Linked DNA regions of Homo sapiens. The protein of the gene in region 1 interacts with the protein of each later gene in a pairwise test. Each region holds a gene or a part of one and is shown on either strand. Other genes may lie near its edges.

Evidence for each region.
Region 2: the proteins of CYGB (region 1) and ARHGAP8 interact in binary tests that used the Homo sapiens proteins (3 or more experiments, as listed by UniProt).
Region 3: the proteins of CYGB (region 1) and LRATD1 interact in binary tests that used the Homo sapiens proteins (3 or more experiments, as listed by UniProt).
Region 4: the proteins of CYGB (region 1) and AKR7A2 interact in binary tests that used the Homo sapiens proteins (3 or more experiments, as listed by UniProt).

The regions. Positions count from the first base shown.
Region 1 is NC_000017.11:76,534,691-76,542,433, forward strand, and holds the start of CYGB (cytoglobin), read right to left. Parts: upstream 3,020-7,743; 5' UTR 2,853-3,019; coding exon 2,710-2,852; intron 1-2,709. Other genes in the region: photoreceptor disk component PRCD, read left to right, coding at 5,452-5,525, 5,815-5,883. UniProt on the Homo sapiens protein: Probable multifunctional globin with a hexacoordinated heme iron required for the catalysis of various reactions depending on redox condition of the cell as well as oxygen availability.
Region 2 is NC_000022.11:44,748,555-44,755,581, forward strand, and holds the start of ARHGAP8 (rho GTPase-activating protein 8), read left to right. Parts: upstream 1-4,020; 5' UTR 4,021-4,073; intron 4,074-7,027.
Region 3 is NC_000002.12:14,628,037-14,635,729, forward strand, and holds the start of LRATD1 (protein LRATD1), read left to right. Parts: upstream 1-4,680; 5' UTR 4,681-4,901; intron 4,902-5,549; exon of another isoform or gene 5,550-5,792; intron 5,793-5,907; 5' UTR 5,908-5,943; coding exon 5,944-6,822; 3' UTR 6,823-7,693. UniProt on the Homo sapiens protein: May play a role in cell morphology and motility.
Region 4 is NC_000001.11:19,303,441-19,309,144, reverse strand, and holds the end of AKR7A2 (aflatoxin B1 aldehyde reductase member 2), read left to right. Parts: intron 1-502; coding exon 503-690; intron 691-882; coding exon 883-987; intron 988-1,734; coding exon 1,735-1,831; intron 1,832-2,043; coding exon 2,044-2,143; intron 2,144-2,997; coding exon 2,998-3,127; intron 3,128-3,796; exon of another isoform or gene 3,797-3,934; intron 3,935-4,758; coding exon 4,759-4,920; 3' UTR 4,921-5,180; downstream 5,181-5,704. UniProt on the Homo sapiens protein: Catalyzes the NADPH-dependent reduction of succinic semialdehyde to gamma-hydroxybutyrate. May have an important role in producing the neuromodulator gamma-hydroxybutyrate (GHB). Has broad substrate specificity.

The DNA.
Region 1 (7,743 bases):
GCCCAGGCAGGCCCGCTTTGACAGTTTCCCTACACTGCCTGGAGAGACAGCTGTGCCAGGGGATCGTGGCCTGGTAACCAGGTGTCTCCTGCCTCAACACCCACCACCGGGTTGTGGCCCTGAGGAATGACAGTCTCAGGGAGTCCCCACCCAGACCCTCCACGGTTCTGTGGCCCCTGGGGCCCATGTGCCTGGCTCCTTCCTCCTGGCTCTGCGGTGTTTCCACCTGAGACCCTCCCGGTCTCAGCCTGTGCTGCCAGGGAGGAGCCTCCACAGCCAGCCCTGGGGAGTTTCTCAGCTCCCAGAGGCATCTGGGCTTCCAAGAGAGCCTGAAATAGGCCTGTCTGAGTGTGAGGAGGAAGGTGTCAGAGTTACAACCAGCAGGGAGGGTGGGTGTTCCCTCTTGGTCTCCTCCCTGGCAGGGAATGGAAGTGTGGGGTCTGCCTCAGGCTCTAAAGCAACGCCTCCTCCACCCCCACCAATGTGGCAACTTCTCCAGGTTGGGGGTGTGGAAGTGCAGCTGCCTCCTTCCTGCCCTGCAGGCTCATAAGGGCTGAGGGTGCTGGCCTGGCGCAGTGGGGAGGGCAGAGGTGAGAGTGCTGGCCAGAGGGCTGCAGCTGGGGTCTTGACCTTGAGGATGTGTATGTTGTGTGTGGGAAGACAGGGTGCTGTGTCAAGACTGACGGGCCCAGGATCTGAGAAGGGACCTTCAGGAGCCCTTATCCCCCTTTCTTCCCCTTCCCCCACTGACCAGGCCCTGGACAGAGACAGGAGGAGAGAAAAAGGAAAGCAAGGCCCTGTGGGGCTTGGGCTGGCAGGGAGTGGCTGAGACAAAGCTGGGCCAGGCTGTCCTGGGGCTGGGCTCTAGTCCACAAAGAAGTGGAGTCAGAGTGGTGAGGGGTTACTCTGGGCACTGAGTGCATTGGTAATGACCTCCCCCAGCCCAGGCCCAGGCCCCTCTAAGAGACAGGAGTGGGGAACTGGAAGAGGGGTGTAGAGAGAGAAAGAAATCCTTGCTGAAAACTCGGACTGCCCAGACATGGCCCTGGCCTCGGTGTTTCGTTTCTCCCTTGGCATCTGCCCTACCCTGGTCCCCTTCCTGGGGAGGTTCAATGGTGTTCCATGATGTGGACGGTGAGCACTTCCTCCACGTATCCGCACAGGTACCTGGCAGGGGTTGGGACACAAAACCTCCAAGGTCCTGAGGACCCTGCCTCGCTTCTTCATGGTGACCCATGAGTGTGCCAGACGCATGCAAGGCCGGTGGGCTGCAGGTGCTGACACACGGCTGACGGCACCCTCCGAGGACGCAGTCTGGCACATCTGCGGCTCTGCTACCCACAATGTGCTTGTGTGGGTGCCAGCACCTGTGGGGATTGGTGGTTCCGAGCGTCTGAGGCCCTAGTATCCCAATGTCCCTCTTAGCTTCCTGCCACTCCCGACTGTGTTTCTGGGCTTGGGGGCTGCTGAGATAGCTGCCCCATCCTCAGGAGCGCTCCTCTAACTCCTTAGAAGTGCTTCCTGCTCTTTTTCCTCCAAAATCTGCTTCTGAGTTGGAATCAGGGCATATCATGGTGGAGCTGGGTCGGTCCCAGGCTTGGGAGAGGCCACAGGGAGAAGAAGCTGGAGATGGAGCAGGCCTGGTAGTCAAGGATGCACTAAAGCTGCCCTTCCAGAGCGAGGCTTCACCCCATCTGCACATGACAAGGCTGCCCTGCTCTGTCCTAGATTTGACCGCTTTCCTCTGCCAAGAAGAGGGGCTTGAGGGTGAGCATGGTCTGGGGCTCCTCTGCCTGCACCCCCAGGGACCAGCACGTGTGGAAAGAGAGCATGGATTTGTAGCTAGAGTCAGTGACTAGCTTTCGAGACTTGGACACATCACCTCTATAAGGATGGTGTGTGTGCTCTAAGCCTAGGTGTGTGAAGAACGGGGCGCTCTGTGTTTGTGGGTCTCTTGGGGGCATGTAGTGCCTGAATGACCCCTAAGCCCAAGCCACTGCATTTCCTCCCTAGGTGGGAGGTTTTAGGGTTAGGCCCTGTCTCCTGAAGCTTCTCTCTTCTTCCCCTCACCCTCCAAACTCAGCAGGGATTGTATCCTAGGGGACTGTTTGCTTCTCCACTCACCTGTGCCTGCCCTGGGCGCTCCTGCTGGCCCGTGCCCTCCAGCGGGAAGGGGGCAGCTGGGAACACTGGACCCCCCGGGCTCTCCTCTTTCTCAACCTCTGCTCTTTGCTCTCTGTTCTTCCAAGAGGCTTTGAATCCCGCAAGCCGCTGAGCTGGAGACAGGGTTCTGCTCCTCTTTGTCCCGCTTCTTGGCTGAGCCTCGGTTTTCCCATCTCTAAAATGGGGAGCCCCTGCTATACTACCTTTGAAAGGCCAGAAAAATGTGTGTGTCTGACAGTTTGGCTGGGTGTCTGGGGTGGCTGGCCGAGCAAGGAGTTCTGAGGCCGGGGAGAGGAGGGGGACCGAGGTGCTCTCCTGCATCTGGTTCCTAGATCCTGGTGAACACCGCGCCGGAGCCAGGGAAGGCTCAACCCAGGCTTCGTTCACCCCAAGGCGCCCCACGCCGCCTGCTCCGCCGACCTCGGACCGGCCCCATTCGCGGCTGGGGAGGTGGCGCTGGAGCTCGGACCCGGGCCCAGCCCTCCTCTGCCCGGAGCCGCTGCCGCCCTCCCTGCCCAGGGCCCGGCCGGGCCGGGCGACACCTACCTCACCAGGATGGCCACCCCCACGTCCTCGCAGTTGGCATAGAGCCGGGCCCACATAGCCTGCACCGCCTTCCTCTCCGCCTCGGACAGCTCCTCGCTCCGCTCCCTGCGCTCGATCTCCATCTCGCCTGGCACTTTCTCCATGAGCAGCTCCAAGCCCAGCCCGGCTTTGCTCGGCGGCGGCGGTGGCGGGGCGCGGGGCGCGGGGCGCGGGGCGCCGGGAGCCGGGGCCGGCTGCGTGCGCGGCGGGCGGGCGAGGGGTAGAGCGCGGAGGGAGGGAGCGTGTGTCTGTGCGCGCCGGGTGTGTGTGTGTGTGTGCGTGCGTGTGTGCAGGGTATATGTGCGGGGGGCGGGGGACAGCCAGCGGTGGGGCGGGGATGTGGTCTGCTGGAAAATGTTTAAAAAAACAAATCCGCTCCAAACCCCCAGCCCCGTGTGGGTAAGAGCCAATGCCGGCAAGGTGAAGGCTGCGCGGGGTGGGGGCGACGCGACTGCCGCCCGCCCACCCGCAGGCCACGGCGGAGTTGCACCGCGGGGCGGGGCTCGGGTAGGTGTGGCCGGGGCGCTGGGGGTCCCGGGAGGAATGGGCGGTCACGCGGCGCTGGGCGGCGCGGGCCGCACAGGAGTGCGCTGGGGCGGGCGCGGGCCGGGAGCGCTGGGTTCCGGGTCCCAGTGCTTGCGGCGTCGCGAGTGTGCGCGTGCGGACCCTTCCCGCGGCGGGGAACTGACTCAAAGTCCAACACTCCCGAGCTTTCGCGGCGAGGCCGACCGCCAGCCCGCCCGTGGGGGCGAACAGGAGCCCCTCCGGCGGCCGCCGTGGACCTAGCTGGGCTCCCCTCGCCCGGGCCTCTCCCCGCGCCCCCGAGCCAGCCGCTGGGGGCCGCGGCGCCACTCCCACGGCTCTGGACGCCCAGGCTCTGGGGGGTTAGCACGGGGGTCGTCCCCCTGCCCGCCCACCGCCCCGGCTGTCGGAACTTGAGCGCACCTCCGACCTCGGGCGCCAGAGGCCTGCGCCCCCTCTCCTTCCGCCCAGCACCTCCATGCCCTCGGTGCACGAACGCGGCGGCGGCGGCCAGAAGTCCCCCGTGGCTTATGAATGACACGGACAGGCAAGAACCAGCCGCTGCCCTGAATTCTAGCCCAGCTGGTGGCGGAGGAAGTCCAGAGAGGCACCGGATAGGGCAGACAGGACCTGGCAGACAAAAAGTCTTGAGGAAGGCGCAGGCTGCTGGGGACATCTCAGCCGCCACCAAGGGCCCGATTCCGGGCCTGGGGGAGGCAAATCCTTCCTCCTGGTGGGCCCTATCCAGGGCAGTGTGAGATTGGGCCAGAGGTGGGGGGAGAATCCCATGGTGCCTGCCCTGCAGCGGCTGCTCAGTCCTGGGGACAGCCTGAGGCCAGACAGGGCCTGGCAGTGTTGGGAAGAGATGTCACTCAGGCTCCCGGCGACCCCTGTCCTCGCTCAAGACTTGATGTCCCATTGCCCAAGCATTGCTAAGGGTTGGCTCTGCGCTTTCACTATGGTTCATGTATTTATTCTTAAAATCCGACTTTAAGGTCCGGGGGAGGCGAGGAGAACTCACCCTGGCCAGCCTCAGCTGCAGCCTGGGCCCCTCCTGGGAGCTCAGGGTTCAGGTGCCTGGGGGACCCTGAGGCAGTGCCTCTGACACTGTCTCCCCCTTGTTGAGGGAATGAAAATCTAATGCCTCCTGGGGGTCTTGGAGGGGCTGGAGGGGAGCGGGTGGGTTCAGGTTCTCACACCACTCCCAGACCCATGTCTCAGCGTGGCCATGGCTGGCTCCATGCTCCACACACACACTGAACAGCTTCTCAAAGTTGGTGTGACCAAGTGGCTGCCCAACAGGTCCCCTTGGGATGTGGAAAGAAAATAGGAGAAATCGTGTAACTATTTCTTTTCATCTCATCCTTTGCAAATGTAATATAGTCGTATGGTGTAGGAATGAATCTGTACAGTAGTCTAGCATATAATTTGTAAGTGGCTGCACCTGTCTATTTTGTGAGTGCACACTTGAATTCTGCCTTTTACTGAAGAGGGCGTGTAATCAGAAAAGTTTGGAGAGGATTGTCCAGAGGGTAAAACTGCCAGCCCTTCACTGTTGAGTCTCCCGTCTCTCTGGCTTCATTATCCAATATTCCTCCCCTTTCTTCCTCCTCTCCTGATGCTTCCACGGTGACATCATTGCTTCACCTCCATTCACCTTGCAGTTACTGGCAGATGCTCCATGCTTTCATGTCAGTAGCTTCGGCAGCGTCTTCTGTCTGAGGGCTCATCCTGCCTTGTGCACTGCAAATTCAGAGGCCCTTGCTCCTCTTTAAACGTTGCCCTGATGCCTGCAACTCTGAAAGTGCCCTGTAGGCGCCTTGAATAACTCCTGGGTCACTCTACTGCAGTCATTGTACTTGACAGCACATTTGTTTAGAGTGGCAGCTCCTTGCAAGCAAGGCCCAGTCTCATCAGATCGAGACTCCGAATACGTGCTCAATGCCACAGTGCATGCCTTGACCCTACCGCTGGAGGGGAGAACCTGGGCCCAGTGAGCTTAATCAGTCCTCACAAGGTCGGGGCCGCTGACCCACTAATCAGCTTGAGCCTCCTAATCCATCCCCAGCAGGAACCGCAGGACAGACGGCAGTGGCTCCTGAGAGCTGGCTGGGGCCATTTTGGCCCCTCGCCTGTGGCCTTCTGCAGACTTGGCCTGGGAGGGGATGGGGCAGCTGCGCCATGTGCACCACCCTTTTCCTGCTCAGCACCCTGGCCATGCTCTGGCGCCGCCGATTTGCCAACCGAGTCCAACCGTGAGAAACTGACCGGGCTATGGCTGGCGGTTGGTCGGGGGGGGGGGGCATGGGGCTGGGCTGCCACCAAGCTGAAGGTGGGCAGGGGCTGCGTGAACCTTCAGCGGGGCTGGGAGGGCATTTTGAGGAACCCTTGAGAGAGCACAGTCTCAGAGCAGGGGGACTTAGAGCTTCAAAGGCTCTAGTTGCAGCCTCTACTCCCATAGCCCAATGCGGCCTGGACCTGTGGAGGGACAGTGAGGGGCTGGGCACAGCCATAGCTCTTCCTCCCTACTCTTGCCTCCCACAGAGAGCCCAGCGACGTGGATGGGGCAGCTAGGGGCAGCAGCTTGGATGCGGACCCTCAGTCCTCAGGCAGGTAAGGCAGGAGTCTGGGCTGGGGGAGGGAGGGTGCTGCCAAGGAAGCTGTGGCTGTGCATGCCTGGGGGTGCACGTGTGTGCCTGTGCGCGCCTGTGCGTGCACCGTATCCTGGCCCTTGCCCTAAGCACCCTGCTCCCTGTCCGCCTGCTGGGCAGGCTGGATGTCTGTTTTCTGCGGTTGGGAATGGGAACCCTCAGCTCGCTCCTCTGGACCAAAGCCGCTGTGCCTCTCATCTCCAGCACGGGGCGGTCCCCCGGGGCACCTTCTGTCAGAAGGCACAGGGGAGTGGAAGGAGGGATGAGGCAGGAGTAGCTCTGTGTGGCTTTGCTCGCCTTTCCTTGCCCTTCCCCCTCCTCCTCCTCTGCCCCCGCCCTGCCTCAGCTAGGCTGCCTGAGCCTCCAGCAGGATTCGCTGTCCAGTCCCCAATAGAAGGCGCGGGAGGAGCATGACATCATCAGCATAGAGTGCCATTGGCTGGGCAGACCCTGCGGGCAGGACGCTGTCTCCAGTGGCCAGAAAGTTAACTCTTCCCTAGGCTGGAGCCATGTGGTCTTTAGGGGGTGAAGTTGGGGGAACTTCCAGACTTTTCCTTCCCTGGGTGACCAGTGTCGTTCGATGATAGGGGCGCCTATCCCAACCAAACACTGGAAAAAATCAGCAAATCTTTATGAAGTTCCCATGCATGAGGGGTTCCTTCTGTGCCTATGGACTCACCTAGCGTGGGAGACCTGTCTGAAGAGTGACTTTTTTGCTCCCAGTGAAACAAAGAGTAAAAAAGATCCGATGACATCTTTGGGTCAGGGCGCACTGGCAGGAGGGTGTCTCCACACAGGGAAGACTCAGGTGGCGGGTACTGTGACCATCCATGTCTCTTTCTGAGTGGGGACCTGCCAGCAATGTGTCCCTTAGATATGCGGAAACTGGCAACCGAGAGAACTTCCGTCTTTCTGTCTCCTGTCGTCTGAGTCCTGGGATTCTGAGTCCTGAGATTCTGATGATCAGAAGGCCCAATGGGAAGCCCTGGGCCTGTACAGGAAGCGGAGGCATTTCTGCGACACCTCAACTCGATAGGCCAGCTGGCATCATCATAATAGTGCCTAATTGATATCACTAGTTAAATCAGCTACAATGACCACCCCTGGGCCTCCCCCGATAGGAGGCCCTCAAATGCTGGGTGGTCCACGCTATTGAGCCCGGGTCTAGAGTTGGGCAGGGAGAATTTAAATTCTGGCTTCCCTCTTACTAATGGAAAGACTATGGGGGAAATTTATGCAATCAGTTTATTTATATGTAAACTAGGATTAATAACAGTGGTTGTGAGGTTTTGGTGAGGGTGCAGAGTGATTGCTCCATAAATGCTAGCAGCTGTCTTGTTTCATGCTCGGGACCTGTGCTTTAGTTTTCTCCAGAGGTTTCCTACCTATTAAGTCACTCGGGAGGCTCAGTAACCCCAGAGGATTGGCAGGACATGTGTTTTTAATCTTTGGTTAATGGTTGTGGAAACTGAGGGACAGGGAGATTTAGGTGGCTTGCTCCAGATCATCTATCTCATTTGTGGCTAATGCGGGATGCTCAGGCCCGATTCCAGGCAGGGTCTCTTCTACATGAAATGGGCCTGGACCTCCTGGCAGGAGAGAAAAGGCCAAATCTGAGGACCATCTGGCCAGGCCTGGCCTGGCGTGACTTAGCCAGAAGGAAGCAGTTGCCTATTAACTCCTTGGGACCCAGTTAACTGGAAAAATTGGTCTGACATCGAGGAACCACCTGCCGATGGTGGCTGCCGTGGAAGGCTGGCAGTGGGGGTGACATTTCTACTCTCCAGTCACACTGTCCTAAATGCCAACTGATTCCTTAGGT
Region 2 (7,027 bases), on another chromosome or scaffold:
TTGTTATAGGGGCCTCAGCCATGAACCCAGCCATGGTTGAGGAAAAGATCTCTTTTTATCCGCAACACCAGCACTCCCCATGTGCCAGGCTTTGTCATCAGGGCTTGGAGAGAGAGAAAGAGAGGGCACAATAAGCCCCAGCCATCCAGGCAAAGTCCAGTTACTCTGACCTGAACTGCTCACTGTGGCCGGAGGAAGGCCTGGGGTGACTGGCACAGGCCCAGTTCCTTCCAGAACCTGAAATAATCATTGTGGCAGGGAGTCGTTGATCCAAAGGAAAAAACCGAGGCAAAATCAATACAAGTAAGAGTATATTTGGGGGCTGGGCGCGGTGGCTCAGACCTGTAATCCCAGCACTTTGGGAGGCCGAGGCAGGCAGATCACCTGAGGTCTGGAGTTCGAGACCGGCCTGACCAACATGGAGAAACCCCGTCTCTACCAAAAATACAAAATTAGCTGGGCGTGATGGCGCATGCCTGTAATCCCAGCTACTTGGGAGGCTGAGACAGGAGAATCACTTGGACCCAGGAGGCGGAGGTTGCAGTGAGCCGAGATCACGCCATTGCACTCCAGCCTGGGCAACAAGAGCGAAACTCTGTCTCAAAAAAAAAAAAAAAAAAAAAGAATATATTTGGGTCAAGTTTGAGGACTGCAACCTGGGAGTATACATTCAAGTTGCCCTGAATATTCACTGTGATTAGCAACAGTTACAAGTAGGTTTTTGAAGGAAAAGAAGAGGCAGTTCCTAAATTGTTTACCAAGAATTTACATTAAAATAACATAAATTGGCTAGGTGCAGTGACTCATGCCTGTAATCCCAGCACTTTGGGAGGCCAAGGTGGGTGGATCACCTGAGGTCAGGAGTTCAAGACCAGCCTGGACAACATGGTGAAACCCTGTCTCTACTAAAAATACAAAATTAGCCGAGCATGGTGGCGGGTGCCTGTAATCCCAGCTACTTGAGAGCCTGAGGCAGGATAATTGCTTGAACCCGGCAGGCAGAGGTTGCAGTGAGCCAAGATTGAGCCATTGCACTCCAGCCTGGGCAACAAGAGCGAAACTCTGTCTCAAAAAAAAACAAAAACAAACAAACAAAAAAAAAGTAAATTGTTCTAAAGAGCTTCTGCATAGCAAAAAGAAACTATCAACAGAGTAAACAGACAATCTATAGAATGAGAGAAAATATTTGCAAACTATGCAGCTGACAAAGGACTAATATACAGAAACAATAAGGAACTTAAATGAATCAACAAGAATAAAATAATCCTATTAAAAAGTGGGCAAGGGGCCAGGCACGGTGGCTCATGCCTGTAATCCTAGCGCTTTGGGAGGCCCAGGCAGGCAGATCCCTTGAGGTCAGAAGTTTGAGACCAGCCTGGCCAACATGGTAAACCCCATCTCTACTACAAGTACAAAAATTAGCTGAGTGTGGTACCGTGTGTCTGTAATCACAGCCACTTGGGAGGCTGAGGCAGGAGAATTGCTTGAACCCAGGGGAGGAGGTTGCAGTGAGCCGAGATGGCGCCACTGCACTCCAGCCTAGGTGACAGGGCAAGACTCTGTCTCAAAAAAAACAAAGAACAAAAGACATGAACAGACACTTCTCAAAAGAAGACATACACGCATACAAGCAGCCAACAAACATGAAAAAATGCCCAACATCACTAATCATCAGAGAAATGCAAATCAAAACCACGAGGAGAAACCATTTCACATCAGTCAATGGCTATTATTATTATTATTTTTTCTGCCAGCATCTTGATTTTGGACAGAATGGCTGTTATTAAAAAGTCAAAAAATAGGAGATATTGGCAAGGCTGCAAAGAATGGGGAATACTTATACACTGTTGGTGGGAATGTAAATTAGTTCAGCCACTGTGGAAAGCAGCTTGGAGATTTCTCAAAGAACTTAAAATAGAACTACCCTTCAACCCAGCAATCCCGTTAGTGGGTACACACCCAAAAGAAAAGAAATCTTTCTACCAAAAAGCCATCTGCACTCATATGTGCATAGCAGCACTATTCACTATAGGTTAGATATGGGGTCAACTGAGGTGCCCATCAATAGTGGATTGGATAAAGAAAATGTGGTACATTTCCAACATGGAATACTATGCAGTCATGAAAAAGAATGAAATCTTGTCCTTTGCAGCAACATAGATGCAGCTGGAAGCCATTATCCTAAGTGAATTCATGCAGAAACAGAAAACCAAATATGACATGTCTCACTTCTAAGGGGGAGCTAAACCTTGGGTACCCACAGATATAAAGATGGGAACAAAAGACATTGGGGACTCCAGAAGGGTGGGGGGAGTAGGGCAAGGGCTGAAAAACTTCCTATTGGGTACTGTGCTCACTACCTGGGTAAGGAGATCAACAGAAAACCAAACCTCAGTGTCACCCAATATATCCCCTAACAAACCTGCACATGTACCCCTTGAATCTAAAATAAAAATAAAAATAATAAGTTGTTGATTGGCTACACATTTTTCTCTGTATCACAAGTTGCAGGAACATGCAGATAATGGGTGAGGCAGTGAGTCAGGAACAAAATGCCTTTAAACCATGGCCCCCACGGCCGGGTGCGGTAGCTCATGCCTGTAATCCCAGCACTTTGGGAGGCCGAGGTGAGTGGATCACTTGAGGTCAGGAGTTCAAGACTAGCCTGGCAAACATGGTGAAACCCCGTCTCTACCAAAAATACAAAAAATTAGCTGGACATGGTGGCAGGCCCCTGTAATCCCAGCTACTTGGGAGGCTGAGGCAGGAGAATTGCCTGAACCCAGGAGGTGGAGGTTGCAGTGAGCTGAGATCGCGCCATTGCACTCTCAGCCTGGGTAACAAAGCAAGACTCTAAAAACAAAAACAAAAAACAAACAAACAAACAAAAAACTATGGCCCCCCAAGCACTGCAGGGGGACCTGGACTGAAGTCCTATACTACTGTTTCTCTGGGCCTGATATATTTTGTTGTATCTAAGCTGCTTTCCTCAGATACAAATCCTTCAACAAACCCTAGGGAAAATTTCCTCTCAAGTCCCTCCAATTCTCCCAGTTCTGCCACGCTTTGTACACCCCTAACGAAAGGGGCCAGGTGCAGTAGCTCAGGCACGTAATCCCAACACTTTGAGAGGCTGAGGAGGGTGGATCACTTGAGCCCAGGAGTTCCAGACCAGCCTGGACAACATGGCAAGACTCCTGTCTCTACAAAAACTACAAAAATTAGCTGGGTATGGTGGTGCACACCTGCGGTCCCAGCTACTCGGGAAGCTGAGGCCGGAGGATCGCCTGAATCCAGGAGGTAGAGGCTGCAGTGAACCAAGTTCAAGACACTGCACTCCAGCCTGAACAGAGCGAGACCCCTGTCTCAAAAAAGTAAAATTAAAAATGGGGCCCGGCGCAGTGGCTCACGCCTGTAATTTCAACACTTTGGGAGGTGGAGGCGGGAGGATCGTTTGAGGTTGGGAGTTCGAGACCAGCCTGGCCAACATGGTGAAACCCGGTCTCCACTAAAAATACAAAACTTAGCCGGGCTTGGCGGCGCACGTCTGTAATCCCATCTACTATGAAGGCTGAGGTGGGAGGATCGCTTGAACTCGGGAGGTTGAAGCTGCAGTAAGCCGAGATCGCGCCACTGCACTCCAGCCTGGGCGACAGCGCGAGACTCCGTCTCAAAATAAATAAATAAATACATACATACATAAAGTAAAATAATGAATAAATAAAATAAGAAATGGGGAAATGGATCAGCAAGAAAGTGCCCGCCCCAGGCATGGGTGCCGTGCGGGACGGGGACGCGGCCCAGCCGGGAATCGGGGTGCCCAGGGTGCGATGTGCGAGGGGCTCCTGAGCGCGTGTGCTCCGCCCGACCCCGCCCTGTCCCCCCGACACACAGGTGGACCCAGGGTCAGCTCGTGCACCTGGGAAATGGCTCCCGCCGGGTAGCAGGGGCGGAGGGGCGGGGCTGGGCGGAGGGGCGGGGGGGCGGGGCCTGCCCGGGAGCCACGTCCGGGGAGGGGCCAGGTGAGCGGCAGACCCGGCACGCAGGTGGGGGCCGGCGGGGTCCGTGGCCAGGTAAGGCGGGCGGCGGCGGGAGGGAGCGCGCAGGGAGGAGGCCGTGCTCGGGGTGGGGGGGTGCGCCGCGGGGGCTCCCAGGGCGTGTACGGGGACAAGGGGCCGCTGGCCGGGTAGGGACGCCCAGGCGGGCGCGACGCCACGTGCGGCCGGGGGGAGACCCTCCGGCCGGCGCGCAGCCTCCGGGTCCCCTGTGGGTTCTAGACTCCCTCTCCCTTCACCTCCTTTCTTTCCCGCCCCCCCACACTCCCCTCCTCTGCTTTTTCCCCTGTCCTGTTCCTTCTCACCCCGCACCGCCTTCCCCGCCCTCGCCTCTCTCAGCCTGCGTTTTGGTCTGGTCTGGCCGGACGGTGTCAGCTCAAATGTTCCTTTTTTGCTTCCGTCCTGGGGTCTCAGGTTAGGTCGGGTCAGCGCCTGGGGGAGGCACCTCCCCCGCCCCCACACACCCCAAACCTACAAGGTGGGTGAGGTCATTCCCGTTTCATAGATGAGAAAACGGAGGCCGGGGCAGGTGCTGCGCTGATTCAAACTCAGGGGGTGGGGGGCTGGCCGGTTCAACACACAGCGGTGGAACCCCCCGGGAGTTAAAAGCAGAAACTTTTTTTTTTTTTTTTGACACCGAGTCTTGCTCTGTCCCCAGGCTGGATTGCAGTGTTGCATCTCTGCTCACTGCAACCTCCGCCTCCTGGGTTCAAGCGATTCTTGTGCCTCAGCCTCCCGAGTAGCTGGGATTACAGGGACTGACACCATGCCAGCTAATTTTTTGTATTTTTAGTACAGACAGGGTTTCACCATGTTGTCCAGGCTGGTCTCGACCACCTGACCTCAGGTGATCCGTCTTCCTGGGCCTCCCAAAGTGCTGGGATTACAGTCGTGAGACACCGCGCCCGGCCTAAAAGCCCAAAGTTTAAACCAATCCGCTAGCAGCCTCGGAGGTCGTCAGGAAGGCAGGGAGGCCCTGCCTTTCACTTTCCCTCAATCCTGTGGGGGGTGGGGGGGCTCCTGAGAATCCCTCGGGCTCTGCCACACCCTGACTTGGAAATTTCTCCGCTGCCTTGGGAGGAGTGTGAAGGCCCCGGAGAAGGAACCGCAGAGTCCACCCGGGAAGGAGGGTGGGATTGTTTGGCGGGATGGGGACAGCACCTTGGCCACCGACTTCAGGGTTTTGTGACAGAGGCTGTGTAGATTCCAGAGAGCTCTGTGCCGTCCCTCGCTTGCCTGTGAAATGCAGTGTTGGCATTTGTCCAGCTGAGAACTCAATGCTTAAGACTCAGCCGTTTCAGAAGTCGATGTCCTTTGGTTGGCCTCTCTGTTGGCAGCTTTAGGATCATGTTTGTGGACTCCTCATTCGATTCACTGACTAACCATTCCCCAAACCAACGCCAGAGTTGGGGGTAGGGCGAAGAGGGACATGGGATGTGGGCCTGAGCCCAGCTGATTCTTGTGGACAGCCAGCTGCCTGGTCCCTGCCCTCAGGGGCCCAGAGTCTGGCTTCTGTGTAGAGAGAATCCAAGGGTTTGTGGGAGCTTAGGAAGGGCTTCCTGGAGGAGGTGGCCATTGAGCTGGAAGGTGGATGGGAGGTGGATGGGGAAGAGAATGGCACCTACTGGCTAGGGATACTTCGCTTGTGAGGTACGGGTGGAAAAGTCCATGGAGTGCCTGACGGGGTGGGCCAATTTACTTGGATAACATCATTGGGTCATTGAAACTTTGTGTGTGTGTGTGTGTGTGTGTGTGTGTGTGTGTGACGCAGTTTTCGCTCTTGTCGCCCAGGCTGGAGTGCAATGGCACGATCTCAGCTCACTGCAACCTCTGCCTCCTTGGTTCAAGTGCTTCTCGTGCCTCAGCATCCAGAGTAGCTAGGATTACAGGCGCCCACCACCACACCCAGCTAATTTTTGTATTTTTAGTAGAAGTGGGGTTTCACCATGTTAGGCAGGCTGGTCTCAAACTCCTGACCTCAGACGATTTGTCTGCCTTGGCCTTCCAAAGTGCTTGGAGTGCTGGGATTACAGGCATGAGCCACCACACCCGGCCGAGTCATTGAAACTTACTTGACTTAAACATGCCTGGGACATCATGCCATCTGCCTAACAAGCCAGTTCTAGGCTGAGCTATTCATGGGCACACTGTAAACGATGGAGTTAAAGGCGGCTTCGGTTAAAGAGACGAGAGCAAGGAACTCAGGTCCTGGAGGTGCCTGACAGTATGTTTCACCACATTAAAAAAAACCCATCCCATTCCCTGATTTTACCCTCATTTCACTGATAGGGAAACTGAGGCACAGGCAGCATGAGGGTGAGAAAGAGATGGAGAAGGAGTCAGCAGACCTGGTTTTTAGGCAGGTCACTCTCCTTCTGGGGCACTCAGCCTCCTCATCTGCAAAAGGAGCTATTGGCTGTCCTTCCCCACTGCGATGGTGGTCACCAAATGGCCATGAAACCCTCACTGCACACTTGGCTGCCTGACTCCTTGCTCACATCAGGAGGCACGGACTGTTACTGCCCCGTTCACAGATGAGGAAACAGACAAGGAAGGTTAAGGTCCCATGGCTAGTGATTAGAGAGCCAGGCTTGGAAGCCAGCGGTGCTGCAGCTACAGTGTTCCCCGTGTCCCCACCTTCCTCCCACACACACTGTGCTGAGCCACCTCCCTGGGCACTGAGGTGTGCCTCCCACATGGGAGCTGGTGTCTGGTGTAAGATGGAGCCATTCGGAGCCTGCCGGTGACTACCCTTCAAATCTATGTGAAATTAGCATGGGGAGAGAAAATAGACGTTTTCCATTTCTTTCCAAATTATTTAACTTTTACCCCTTGGTCCTTTAATTAAAACTGATGCTCAAGGAAGATGCATCACGTGTGTCCAGATGCTTCCCAGGCCTCCCTGGGGTGCATTTGAGGGGAGAGCCTCTGGGCCCTGCACTGTGGGACTTAGCTGCAGGAGAGCGCGCTGC
Region 3 (7,693 bases), on another chromosome or scaffold:
CTACCCAGGAAAGTTCAACCATCACTCATATGGGGAAGTGGGCCCAAACAAAAGGCATGAACTATCCTAAAATTGGGAGAGAACACAGAGAAAAATGAATGCTAGGTGAAGATATCTTTGTATAATCCACAAAAAAATAAAATATTAAACCAATTAGTGCTAAAGGTTTTACCCAGGGAGCATTCATGAGTCTTTAATGGTTCGCTGATAAGAAGCCACAAAAGACACTTTAATATGAACACTCAGTTATGGGAAGGAAATTAGAGAACATGGAAATGTGGAAGCCAAACTTGGAAATGGGCACTGAAGAGGAAATTGATAGCCAGAGTGTCAATGCATGCATGCGGGTTAAGGGAAGCAGGATACCAGCTGCAAGAAGTTTACTGGGAGGGGTTTCCCACGCCATTGTTGTGGTCTACAAAAGTAGAAAGCAGGTAAGATGTTCAGAGAGCTGGGTAAGTTAGTCACATGGAAGCTGTGAAAATTTCTAGAACAAATAGTAGGGAGATATGGGGTAGTACCTAGAGGGGAGAGAAGTGTTCATTAGTGATTTCTTTACATTCTAGGTGATGTGAACCTGCTGAAATGCTGCAGGGATTTCAGGCAAGTTAGCCTTGGCAGTGAGAACAGATACAAAGAGAGAAGGAGGTAGGAGGTGTGTGTGGGGACGGGGGAAGTGGGGGAGATTTTTATTGTTCTGAGATAGGTCTAAAATGAAGGACAGTATATCAGTCAGTACAGGCTAACTGCTATAATAAATAACCACACAATTTTGGAGTGGCTTAACCCAAGAAGATTTATTTCTTCACAGTCCAATGCAGTTTTCTTGGGAGGGGAAATTATCAGCTCTACACAGTCATTCAGGAGCTCCGGCCTTCTTCCATCTAGTGGCTCCTCCATCTCTTAGATCCTAGGAGTCCTACCATGAATCCTCTACAAATGGCCAAATTGGCAAAAGAAAGCTCTGGAAGATTGTGTTAATAATAGTTTCAGTTTCAGGAGCTTTCAGGAGCGGCACCTGGGAGTGGCTTATTCTACTTCCACCCACATTCCATTTGCCAGAACTCAGTCACAGGGCATGGGGCAAATGACTGCAGGCATGCTGGGACTTGTCATTTAGCTGGGTGCCCAGAAGGAAGGGAAATGGGATTGGTGAAGCCATATAACCATCTCTAATCCAGATGGACACAGAGTATTCTTTAGCTCAGACCAGGGTGAGTATGTTAACTGCCTAAGGCAGTGAAGGACAGGAGATGGAACAGTTCATTTCATTAAAGGATAAAGTGGGGCATATAATTTTCCTGAACCCTTACTCCAAGCTCCAAGGCCAATTTTAAAGGATGACAGTTTGAGCCAAGGACCTGTTCAGTAAAATTTGGAGTAAAGCTTTTCAAATAGTGCCAAAGAAGCAACCAAAAACAAAAAAAAAAAAAGAGAGAGAGAGGATACATCAGATGGCACCAGCAGAAAAGATCACATACATTTGATTGACTCCTAATCACTCCCCTGTAACTTTTTTCCCCACACAAATTCCTCACACCGGAAATGTTCATTTAAAACAATTAAAAATCCTTCAGGGAACCCCCACCCCACTCCCTGCTACCACATGATCAGCCCAGGGGCTCACATGCTGAAATCTATAGAGAGCTTTAGGTCTCAGAGTATTTGAAGGATAGGCAGGGATCTCACCACCTTAACACAGAAGCAGTCCTACACCCCAATCAGGGAAAGCCTTGGACACTATCTATTGCTACCTTTAGCCTGGGGCAAAGGAGAAAGAGAACTGCACAGCTGTCCTAAACAAGTAGGGTATGAGACCTCTCTCTTCCACCAAGAATAATAATAAGATAGCCTTGATTGAAAACTCACTGTGCGTCAGACACTATGCTTACATGTATGAACTCACAACAATTCAGTGAGGTAACCACTATTATTATCTCTTTTTTACAGATAAGGAAGTTTCCTGATGCCCACAAAGTTTAAATAACGGACTCGAGGTTACCCAGCAATAAATGTTGAAAAAGAGTTTAAATTAGTTGGCTTTCAGAGTTTGTGTTTTGGACAACTATATTCTACTTTGGACAGCACTGTATTTTCTCATTGTAAAAGCAGGCAGGATGGAGTAAAAAATAAAAGTCAAAACAATTTGAAAACAATATTTTGTGATGAACATAAAACATTTTCTACAATCAGCATCCTTCATTTGATTGTCTTACTTTATTATCTGGTAAGTGCCAAAAGAAGACAAAGTGTAGATGTATTTTCCTTAGTTTACTTTTAGCTCCCTTTATTTCAAGCCTCACAGTCAATGTGTTCCCTGCCTTATGTTTCAAGGGGGCTCCAGGGTATTTTTTCTCCCATGTGATTACAAAAGCAGTTAGCCGTTTAGCCTAGCAGGGGGAATGAGAGGAAACGGAGAGGCCAAAAATTTTAAACTTTAGGCACTATATCTCCAATAACTGACAACATTTTATCTTAATTATGCTTTATAGTATTGGAATACTAAACAAAGAGGAACGACCTGCTTACTCTGTAGTCTGGAGCAGAATGAAATAGAACACGTAGGGCAGAACACAACAAATGAGTTGTAAATGTCTGTGCACAAGGCTTGATCTTGGGGATGGAGGGAGGATATTTTTTAAGTTATTCAAACGCTGAGTTGCTTTCAAAGAGTTCTTCTCAGACATCAACAATGAACTCTTCAGATACCCTCATCCCAGACAGCCCTGAAGTCCAGTTTATAACAAGACCAATAACTCACTCCTTATCTCTAAAGCTACTTGTTCAATTCTCTTGACTTCAGGGCCAAAATGAGTTGTTTATTACTTATGGCAAGTATAAAAAAGGCCATCTCAACCTGTGGTCAGTTCCACGAATGGCAACTTGTTTTCTGATAACTTGCATGCACATGGACAATAGCCAAATTTCCAAAAAGATTTAGGTACATCAATTGTATACCGATGGTCATTTAAAACCATTTTTTCCAGCAATATTTTAGCATCTAATTTGATAAATCACTGCATTTGGAGGCTGTGGGGGTGTACAGAGACCTTCAGAAAGCAAACATAAACTGGAGGCTTGGCGGTTTGAAGATATTCAAGCAGAAAAGTCTAGCAAAGAAAAAGGGGGTTGTAATATGGATCAGTCTCCATGTAACCTTGAGCCAATCATCTAACTTCTCTGAAACACCAGTTTTCTCATTTTATGAAACAAGATTTTATTCAATAAACACTATAACTTAGTGAAAGACTGGATCTGGTATCCCGTAGGCTTGGATGGATTGCTGGTACTAGTATTGGAGCTTTTGTTTCCCTGTTTGTTACAATTCGGATATTAGTGAGTACCCTACAGAGGAATAATGATTAAATTGTCTACTTAATTTACTCTTAAGTGTCTGACCACGTATAAGTGGTCAATACAGGCTGTTTTCATTTTTACTATTACTGATGGAACACACTGCATGACTAGCATTGGGAAAGAGGCCCAGAATACAAGGTTGTGCAGAATGCAAAGTCTATTCTCAAGGAATTCGCTTTGTAGGGAAGAGGTGGGGGGTTCAAATAGGAAGTATCAAATTCCTCATTGGGAAAGAAAAGAGGCTTCATAGAAAAGCTGCTGGAGCCCAGGCTTAAAGATGAGTAGCATTGGGGCCAGAACCAGATGTCTAAGAACTCTTTGAGGCTTAATGTTAGGAACTTTTGAAACTATTGGTCTGGAATGTTGTATATATGAAGTTCATTTTTTCAGCATCCAATATTCAGAACACATTCATTCATTAACTTTCCATCCAGAAATGTAATCATTAACTACTGCTGGAGCCTCCTTTCCCACAAAACCAAACAAAACTTGCTTAGCAATCCCAATTCTGAGGCTTGGAAAACACTTTTACATCCTACTCTCTGCTTGCATGTATGAACTCACATACATGAGTTGTGAGGTACTCCTCCTATATTCAGAAAATTGGAGGCCAATATCATAGGCACAGCCAGGGAATGCACCGGCCAAAGCTCAGGCTTTTGGGTGGCATTTGACACCAAGCTCCTTTTAAATCGGGCATCAGCTCTGGGTCAGCAGCCTCACTCCAGTCAAAGAAGAGGAGCCAAACGTCGCAGGAGCAATTTCAAAGACGTCTGGGGAACGAAAAGGGTCTTCGATCCAAGGACCAGCCTAGGGGCCATCGGGAACCAAGGCTCTGGGGGATCCCAGCAGGGCCCAGACGCCCGCCTCGGGCAATGTCGCTGCCTGCCCCGGGCCGCTCGCAGTGCCTGGGCCATACTGGGGTGCCCTGGGGTTTCTTCTCCATACCCAGACTCAGCTTCCCCGCTGGAGTCTGTCTTCCTGGAACACGGAACGCGGGCGGGCTGTGTTCTCAGTCACAATCAGCTCGGATGAGCTGGGGGGCGCGGGCGCAAGCGGGCATCGGCACCTGGCAGAAAGCGCCGCGCCCCCCGCGGGTGCGCACACCTCCGCTCCCCGGGGCGGCGCGCGGTCGGGTGTGCGGGGTACGGGGCGGGGCGGAGCGGAGCAGAGCAAAGCGCACAGGAGGCCCGCCTCTGCTCCCCTCCCCCGCCGGCGAAGATTGACACAGCTCGAGCACCCGCCCCAACCAATGAGCGCGTCCTGGGGCGGGCCCTGGGACCGGCTGCTCCGGCTACTTAGAGTCGTCGGCGCGGCGGTGGGAAAGCAGAGCCGAGCCGGGACTGTCCAGTGGGAGCAGGCGCCCCGGCCAGCGCAGACCTGGAGGCGCACGGGCGCCGCACCGCACGATTCGGCTCGGGGTAGAGCGGAGCCGCAGCCCCACGCGCAGCCCAGGACCCACTCGCCACCGCCGCTTCCTCAGCACCCATGGGGACCAGGAGACTTTAAAGGAGTTTGGGGTTTCGGGAGCAGGGAAATCACGGGTAGGGAGAAGCGGCTTTCTTTGCCTTGGAAACGGTTTTTCTTCATCCGATTGTTTGGATCCTGTGCTGGGTAGGAGGGAGAGGGGTCTTTGGGCTAAAAGTGAACCTCTCTACACACACACGCTCCCACCCACACCCACACACATACACTGCACTGGCTTTCTCCATCCTTCCCCTGCCTCTTTGTTAGGTTATTTTAGACAGAGCAGCCTCGCCCTGGCGCAGTCCCATTGGCCCTGATGGGGACAAGGCAAGAGAAGTAAGGGGCAGAGTGCACCTGCCTGTGAGGGCAGGTGTGCCCGGGTGCTTGGGCGTACGTGCAACGGCGAGCGTGCAAGCGTGGAGCTGAAATTGTGTACGAATGTGTGGGGTCTAAGTGTGCCAGTGTGTCGTCGCGAAGGTTTGTCATTGTGGGTGTATGTGACATACACCAGTATACCAGGCTGCCAGTGTCTGGACTCCCAAGTGTCCAAAATGTTGCTGGTGTCAAGTGAATGCCTGAGAATGTGTCTGATTGTCATTGTGCGAGCCGCTGTAAGGGGAGGAAGGCAACCTAGTGCAAAACTGGGAGGTGGGCTGGAGAGGGTGGGGACAGAAATGGGAGCTTGCTCCCAGCTCACTGGCCTTAGGCTCCCTTCTCCCTTTCAGCCCACCCCTCGGTCCTTCCTGGGTGTCCGTCTCCCACACTGCCACAGCCAGCACTCTCCTCCCCACCGGGACCCCGCAAGCTCTCCAGCCAGCCTGGGTGTTTTCTTCTGGGAGTTGGACCGAGTTCCCGGAAGGGGTCGGAGGCTGTGTGGTGGCGTCTGCTCTCGCCTGACCTGTGGCGGCTTCTCCGCCCCTCGTACCCCTGGGGAGGCACGGAGGACTCGGCTGGAAAGGGTGACTCCGGTGAGGGCACGTAAGCTAGCCGGCAGGTCCCAGGGGCACTGCACGTCTTGGGGAGGGACACCGAAAGGGGCAGCCCGGACTCTGACGGTGTCTCTGCCTCTCTGTGCCTCCGCAGATCCCCGCTCCTGGCCCTCGCCTCGCCACCTCATTGATGGGCAACCAACTGGACCGCATCACCCACCTCAACTACAGCGAGTTGCCCACAGGGGACCCGTCGGGGATTGAAAAGGACGAACTGCGGGTCGGGGTTGCCTACTTCTTCTCGGATGATGAGGAAGACCTGGACGAACGCGGGCAGCCCGACAAGTTTGGCGTGAAGGCCCCCCCGGGTTGCACCCCCTGCCCGGAGAGCCCCAGCCGCCACCACCACCACCTGCTGCACCAGCTGGTCCTCAACGAGACTCAGTTTTCCGCCTTTCGGGGCCAGGAATGCATCTTTTCCAAAGTGAGCGGTGGCCCTCAGGGCGCCGACCTAAGCGTCTACGCGGTCACCGCGCTGCCAGCGCTCTGCGAACCCGGCGACCTGCTGGAGCTGCTGTGGCTGCAGCCCGCGCCGGAGCCGCCCGCGCCCGCCCCGCACTGGGCCGTCTACGTGGGCGGCGGGCAGATCATCCACCTGCACCAAGGCGAGATCCGCCAGGACAGCCTGTATGAGGCGGGCGCGGCCAACGTGGGCCGGGTGGTGAATAGCTGGTACCGCTACCGCCCGCTGGTGGCCGAGCTGGTGGTGCAGAACGCCTGCGGCCACCTGGGCCTCAAGAGCGAGGAGATCTGCTGGACGAACTCGGAGAGCTTCGCCGCCTGGTGCCGCTTTGGCAAGCGGGAGTTCAAGGCGGGAGGGGAGGTGCCGGCAGGCACGCAGCCCCCGCAGCAGCAGTACTATCTCAAGGTGCACCTGGGAGAGAACAAGGTCCACACCGCCAGGTTTCACAGCCTGGAAGACCTCATCCGCGAGAAGCGCCGTATCGACGCCAGCGGCCGCCTGCGAGTGCTCCAGGAGCTCGCCGACCTCGTGGACGACAAGGAGTAGCCGCCTAGGGGCTGCCGGCCCCTCTGCCTCCCCCGCACCTCGCTCCCTTCCCTTCCCCGCACCCGGACTTCGCAGTCAGCGGTTCTCAACCTCTGCCCCGCCCCGCCACGCGCGTCCGCCGCCGGTGGCCCGGGCCCGGGCTGCACCCCCGCATCCCCAAGCCAGCGGCAGGAAGTCTCAGGAACTGCCCCAGGGCCGAAAGGGCGCCGCTGCGAGCGCCTGGCTGACAGCCACAGCGGTGGTGACGGTGCTGGGAGACCCCGCGTGCGCTTTCCCCTTGAGATGTAAACCGGGAACGGGGAAGGGGCTGAGGGGAGAAAGGACATGGCCTTCCCCGCGAGTCCATGGCCAGTGACTGTGGCCCGACTCGAAAACAACCCTCTTCTCAAAAGGGACCATCACCGCCCCGAGCGTGCGCACACAGACCGGTCGGAGGCGAGAACTGGTCTCTACAGGGCACAGTTCAGCTCCTCTGTGGATGCGTCCCCAGATCGCAGGATTTCCAAGAAATCGAGCCTGTCCCTTGTGCACTTGGGAATAATTCCCCAAGACAGCACTTCGGGATTCCGGGTTATCCTGAGGCTGCCCGGGACTTTTCCAGCTCTCCAGCCCCAGGTCTCCTGACATTGTGTTCCAGGCTGCGGGCTAAGCCAGACAGTGTTTGCCTCCGGTTCTTTCCACCGTGGGAAGCGAACGCCACCCCCACCCGCCTTTGCCTGCGAGTCTCCCTCGCTGGCAGAAGGGAAGCCGGCCCGGTCCCGGGAGGAAGATGGCGCTGCGAATTCGGTGAGGACAGCCGGCCCCGCCCCCGACAAGGAGCTCGCTCGTTCACCTGGTGTCTGGGAACTTGAATGTGTGAAGGGCGCTTATT
Region 4 (5,704 bases), on another chromosome or scaffold:
CCTCTTTGACTTTGCATGGGTTCCCATGCTCTGGAGTGTACTTCCTGCTCTTCCTTGTTGGCTGGGACTCTGGGAGTGATCCCCTAGAGAAAGCCTTCCCTGGAGTCTCCAAGTTGGCTTCATGCATCTCATCTGGGCTCCTTGGCATCGTGTGCCTTTCCCTCCTGTGCTTACCATATTGTACCATCATCCTCTAGGGCTCCAGGAGGGCAGAGATCCATTGTGTTCAGTTCATCTCTGCATACTCAGTCTCTAGTGCAAGGCCTGGCACAGCCAGCAGGTTGGTGACTAATGATAGTTATTCTAATAGGTGAACATTGAGAACTCACATATATGACATTATTTAATCCCCAGGACCTCCCAATGAGGACAGTTTGATTATTATCACCCCATTTTACAGATCATACAATTGAGGCCAAGAGAATATTAGTAATTTAGCCAGGGTTACATGGTTAGCAAATGGCTCTAATAGGTCACTTAACCATTCCATTCTCTCTCCAAGTGAAAATTGCCACCAAGGCCAACCCTTGGGATGGAAAATCACTAAAGCCTGACAGTGTCCGGTCCCAGCTGGAGACGTCATTGAAGAGGCTGCAGTGTCCCCAAGTGGACCTCTTCTACCTACACGCACCTGACCACGGCACCCCGGTGGAAGAGACGCTGCATGCCTGCCAGCGGCTGCACCAGGAGGTGAGGGGGCCCTCCGAGCTCCAAAGGTGGGCTCCTGCTCCTTTCTTTATCCTGATCCTACTCATGAGAGCAGAGGCACCAGGGCAGTCCCAGGGTGGGGCAGGGAATAGCCCCATTCCCTGGGGCCCCACCCTGGCCTCCCCTTCCTGGTCTGGGCTACACTGCGTTCTGACTGGAGCCTCACCCATGCAGGGCAAGTTCGTGGAGCTTGGCCTCTCCAACTATGCTAGCTGGGAAGTGGCCGAGATCTGTACCCTCTGCAAGAGCAATGGCTGGATCCTGCCCACTGTGTACCAGGTGAGGGCCGGGGCTGCAGAGGCCAAGGTCTCCAGGACTCCTGCTAATCCTGGGCTCTCTTTGCCCCCCTGACTGCCCCCTGTGCCGTCTGCATAGCAGCCACTCCCCTGCTGAAAGCCTGCAGATGGCTCCCATGTACCCTCAGGATGCCATTCAAGCTCCTCAGCCTGGCCACTGGGCATCTGCTTCCTTCCTGCCTATCTGTGCACCTTGGACCCTTCCTTCCCCACCTCCTTTCATACTTCAGCCTGGAACACATTTCCCCTGCCCTCCTCCCTGGGAGAAGCACTCAGGCCTTACATAGAGGTCTCCTCCTCTGGAAGCCTTTCTAGACAGCCCCATAGGAGTCTCCAGTCTCCAAATCTCATCTTCATACATTCAGCGAGTACTTTCCAGCTCCTTGTTTGATTGTAGAACCTAACTTTATTGTAATTAACTGCCTTCCTTGTCTATTTTTTTAAACTTGAGTAAACATCTCCTGGAAGCAGGGATTTTGTGATACCTACTTGTGGTTGTAACCAGTGTCCAGCATGGAGTTCATACAGCAGATATTTGTGGAAAGATACCATTCCACTTCAATTTTCTGTCCTTGGGCCCAACACCTTCCCTCCATCCCCTACTAACAGTAGTGATGTTAGAATATTGCTGAAGTCCTGGGCCGGTGTTGCTTTAGAGGTTTGAAAGTGGAAGGCAACAGTTCCTTCTCTTGACATGTCCACCCTGTCCCCGGGGTCCCTCTCCCTGCAGGGCATGTACAACGCCACCACCCGGCAGGTGGAAACGGAGCTCTTCCCCTGCCTCAGGCACTTTGGACTGAGGTTCTATGCCTACAACCCTCTGGCTGGTACGTGGAGCATTCCTGACCCTGTCTCAGCCTATTCCTGACCCACAGATGCCCAGCCCAGAATTTATGAAGCAGGGAGGGTTTGACAAGAGGCTGGGCTGTGTTCTTCAGCCCCTCCTGGGTCCCTGCCCCTCCCCTAGACCAGAGCCCTGAGGGATGTGGCAGCTTCTGGGGCACTCTGGGGCCAGGGGCTGATTGCTGCCTTCCCGCAGGGGGCCTGCTGACTGGCAAGTACAAGTATGAGGACAAGGACGGGAAACAGCCTGTGGGCCGCTTCTTTGGGAATAGCTGGGCTGAGACCTACAGGAATCGGTGAGCCGGGGGTGGGCTTGGTGAGGATGGCTGGGGTGGGGTCAAATCTATGTGGAATGAAGTCCTGGGCTGTTCCTGAGGTAAGACCTTCCTTTGCTGTTTGCATCTCCTCCCCTGCATTGCTTCAGGAATTCCCAAGCCCTCTGTGGGTTTTCTTGTTGTCTTGAGACCTCTGGGGGGGAAATGAGGATCCCTGGATGTTGGGGTCTTGAAGTCATAGCTCGTTCCTGAGCAATCACCTGCTGGGAAGCAAAAAGCGAGCCCAGGATGGGCCAGGCATGGTGGCTCACACCTGTAATCCCAGCACTTTGGGACACCGAAGTGGGAGGGTTACTTGAGCTCATGAGTTCAAGACCAGCCTGGGCAACATGGTCTCTACAAAAAAAAAATGCAAAAAAGTGGTCAGGTGTGGTGGTGCACACCTGTCTGTAGCCCAGCTACTTGGAAGGCTGAGGCAGGAGGATTACTTGAGTCTAAGAGGTTGAGGCTGCAGTGAGCCATAATGATGCCACTGCACTCCAGTGTAGGCAACAGAGTAAGACCATGTATCAAAAAGCAAAAAGAGAGCCCAGGAGGGAATCCTGCCCCATCTGAGCAGCCTTCGTGTCCCTAGGGAAGTCCCTAGGCTACTGAGTCCTCAGGAGTAAAGATCCATTGAGGTCTCTGCTGAGGGGCCCAGCATCCTGGGTGGTTCTGATGCCCAGCAAAGTGGGAGACCTATGACTAGAGAGGACACCCGCCCCTCAGGGCTGCAGGGTGTGGGGTGGGGCAGTGGTCCTGGATGGCTATTTGGTTGCGGCTCCCAGTGTGACCCCCATGGTACTGACCCCTGTGCTAACATCCCCTCTGCACAGCTTCTGGAAGGAGCACCACTTCGAGGCCATTGCGTTGGTGGAGAAGGCCCTGCAGGCCGCATATGGCGCCAGCGCCCCCAGTGTGACCTCGGCTGCCCTCCGGTGGATGTACCACCACTCACAGCTGCAGGTAACCAGCGACCCTGGGTGCTCAGCTTCTTCCCTTCCAGGGGGACCAGCGTCACCTTTAGGTGAAGCCCAAAGCATTTGATTTCTGAATTCCTCTGAAATTTTTCTTTCTTCCAATTCTCATAAGCACTCTTCCCACTGGTCTTTGATGGTATCTGAGTGGAGGCTTTGTAGTGAGGGATTTTCATTACAGGGATTTTCTTATTCCTTAGGCTTTCTGAAGTATGATTATCCCAGTGTTATTGATGAGGAAACCGAGGTTCACCCAGCTATTAAAGTGGCAGACATTTTAACACAGGTTTAACTAAGACCCACCCATCTCACCCTTTTGGTTTCTCTCTCTTGATGCCTCATGTCTTCCTGGTTAAAACTTATTTCCTGATCAGTGGCAGTGACCCACACCTGTAATCCAGCACTTTGGGAGGCCGAGATGGGAGGATTGCTTGATCTCAAGCATTTGAGTCTAGCCTGGGCAAGAAAATGGGACCCTATCTCTACAACAAATCAAAAACATTAGCCAGGTTGTGATGGCTTGCTCCTACGTTCCCAGCTACTCTGGAGGCTGGGATGGGAAGATGGCTTGAGCCTGGGAGGTCAAGGCTGCAGTGAGCTGAGATTACACCACTGCACCTTAGCCTGGGTGACAAAGCAAGACCCTGTCTAAAAAAAACAAGCAAACAACAATGAAAATAACAGCAACAAACTTATCTCCAGCTTCAGCCTTCCATGTTGCATAGTGTCTGGCATATATCCGGTAGATGTTCAGTACGTGGGAGCTGTGTTTTACATAAGTTTTCTCATTCCAATGCTGAAAACAGAGAAAAAGATTGAATGTCATGCCTGCATCGACAGCACATATACTAAAATTGGAATGATACAGAGAAGATTAGTATGGCCCCTGCGCAAGGATGACACGCAAATTTGTGAAGTGTTCCATATTTTTCCGCTGCCACCACCACACCGCACTACCTCCCACCCCCTTTTGTGTACAAAACACAAGGAAAAATATTTTTGTTTGAAAAAAAAAAAGATCGAATGTCAAAACAAGCTTAATAACGTAGCCTGCTTTTTAATTTTTTTGAGACAGAGTCTCACTCTGTTACCCAGGCGGTAGAACAGCAGCACACTCATAGCTCACTGCAACCTCAACCTCCTGGGCTCAAGTGATCCTTCTGCCTCAGCCTCCCTAGTAGCTGGGACAAGGCATGCACCATCACCCCTGGCTAATTTTGTTTTGTTGTTTTTTGTAGAGACAGAGTCTCTCTCTGTTGCCCAGGCTGGTCTTGAACACTTTGGCTCAAGTGTTCTTCCCACCTTGACCTCCCAAAGTGCTGGGATTGCAGGCATGAGCCTCTGTGCCCAGCCAACTTAGCCATTTTTACACAGCTGCTGGGGGCAGAACTGGGCTGTGAATGTAGTTCTGTGTGGAAGCGTCGTGCGGCAGTAGGGGAAAGGATGCGGGTTTCAAGTCACGTGGGTACAGCTATCCAAGGCACCTTAAGTCCTTTCTGGACATACAAGATATAAATATAAACAGAGACCCCAGATCTCAGCAGGGAGGTGGCTGGGACGGCTGTGAGTGGAGTCGCTGTGCAGCAGAAGAGGGTTGAAGTCTGGCCGTCTCCCTTGCAGGGTGCCCACGGGGACGCGGTCATCCTGGGCATGTCCAGCCTGGAGCAGCTGGAGCAGAACTTGGCAGCAACAGAGGAAGGGCCCCTGGAGCCGGCTGTCGTGGATGCCTTTAATCAAGCCTGGCATTTGGTTGCTCACGAATGTCCCAACTACTTCCGCTAGGCCCATCATGGCTCAGGCTGCCCAAGGCTTTTCTGTCACCTCTTTTGTTCTCTCACACTGACCAGTCTTGGCCTTAAGCTGACTTAGAAGGGTTTTTCTGAATTGTCTAGATCCATGCATTATTTTTCTAGCTTCCTGCCTTGCTCCCTATTCACTTTACACTGTGAAAGGTGGGGGGTGAGTCCCACTTGAGCGCTTCCTGTTGAATAAAGCAGGCACTTGACCTGGCTGTAGCCTAGGTCTTGAGTGAACCCCAAAAACTTGCTTTCTCTGCTGTTAACACTTTGTTTCCCATCCTACCTGGGGACTGAGAAAGGGCAGAACCATGGGCTGGAGTCTTCAGAGGGCAGAGGTAGTAGGAGGGTCACAGAAGCACACTGCCCTCCCAGGGTCTCCTCGGGCCCCTGGTCTGAATACCCACCTGACCTCTCAACATTGAGGTGTCTCTCACTCTTCTACACACGATAGAAAAGAGAGTCATACACCTGCAGTACATTTTCTCTAATTCAGAGTTGCCTCAATACATTCTTAGGAATGAAACAACTGGGACAAAGAAACTACCATTAGAGTCACTACCAAGAAGAAGAACACTTCCCAGGATCTGTGGAACATCTTGAAGCTCTCAATCTTAGCCTCCTCTTGTCTTAACTAAAGCCTCTTGTCTTTTCACCCATTAGGTTCTCAGTCTTGGCTCTGGGCCTCCTGTTCGGCATGGGGACAGACATAGGCAGCCAAGGTCCTCATTTCCCTTGGAAACCCCTACTCCAAACAGGAGGCACCAAGG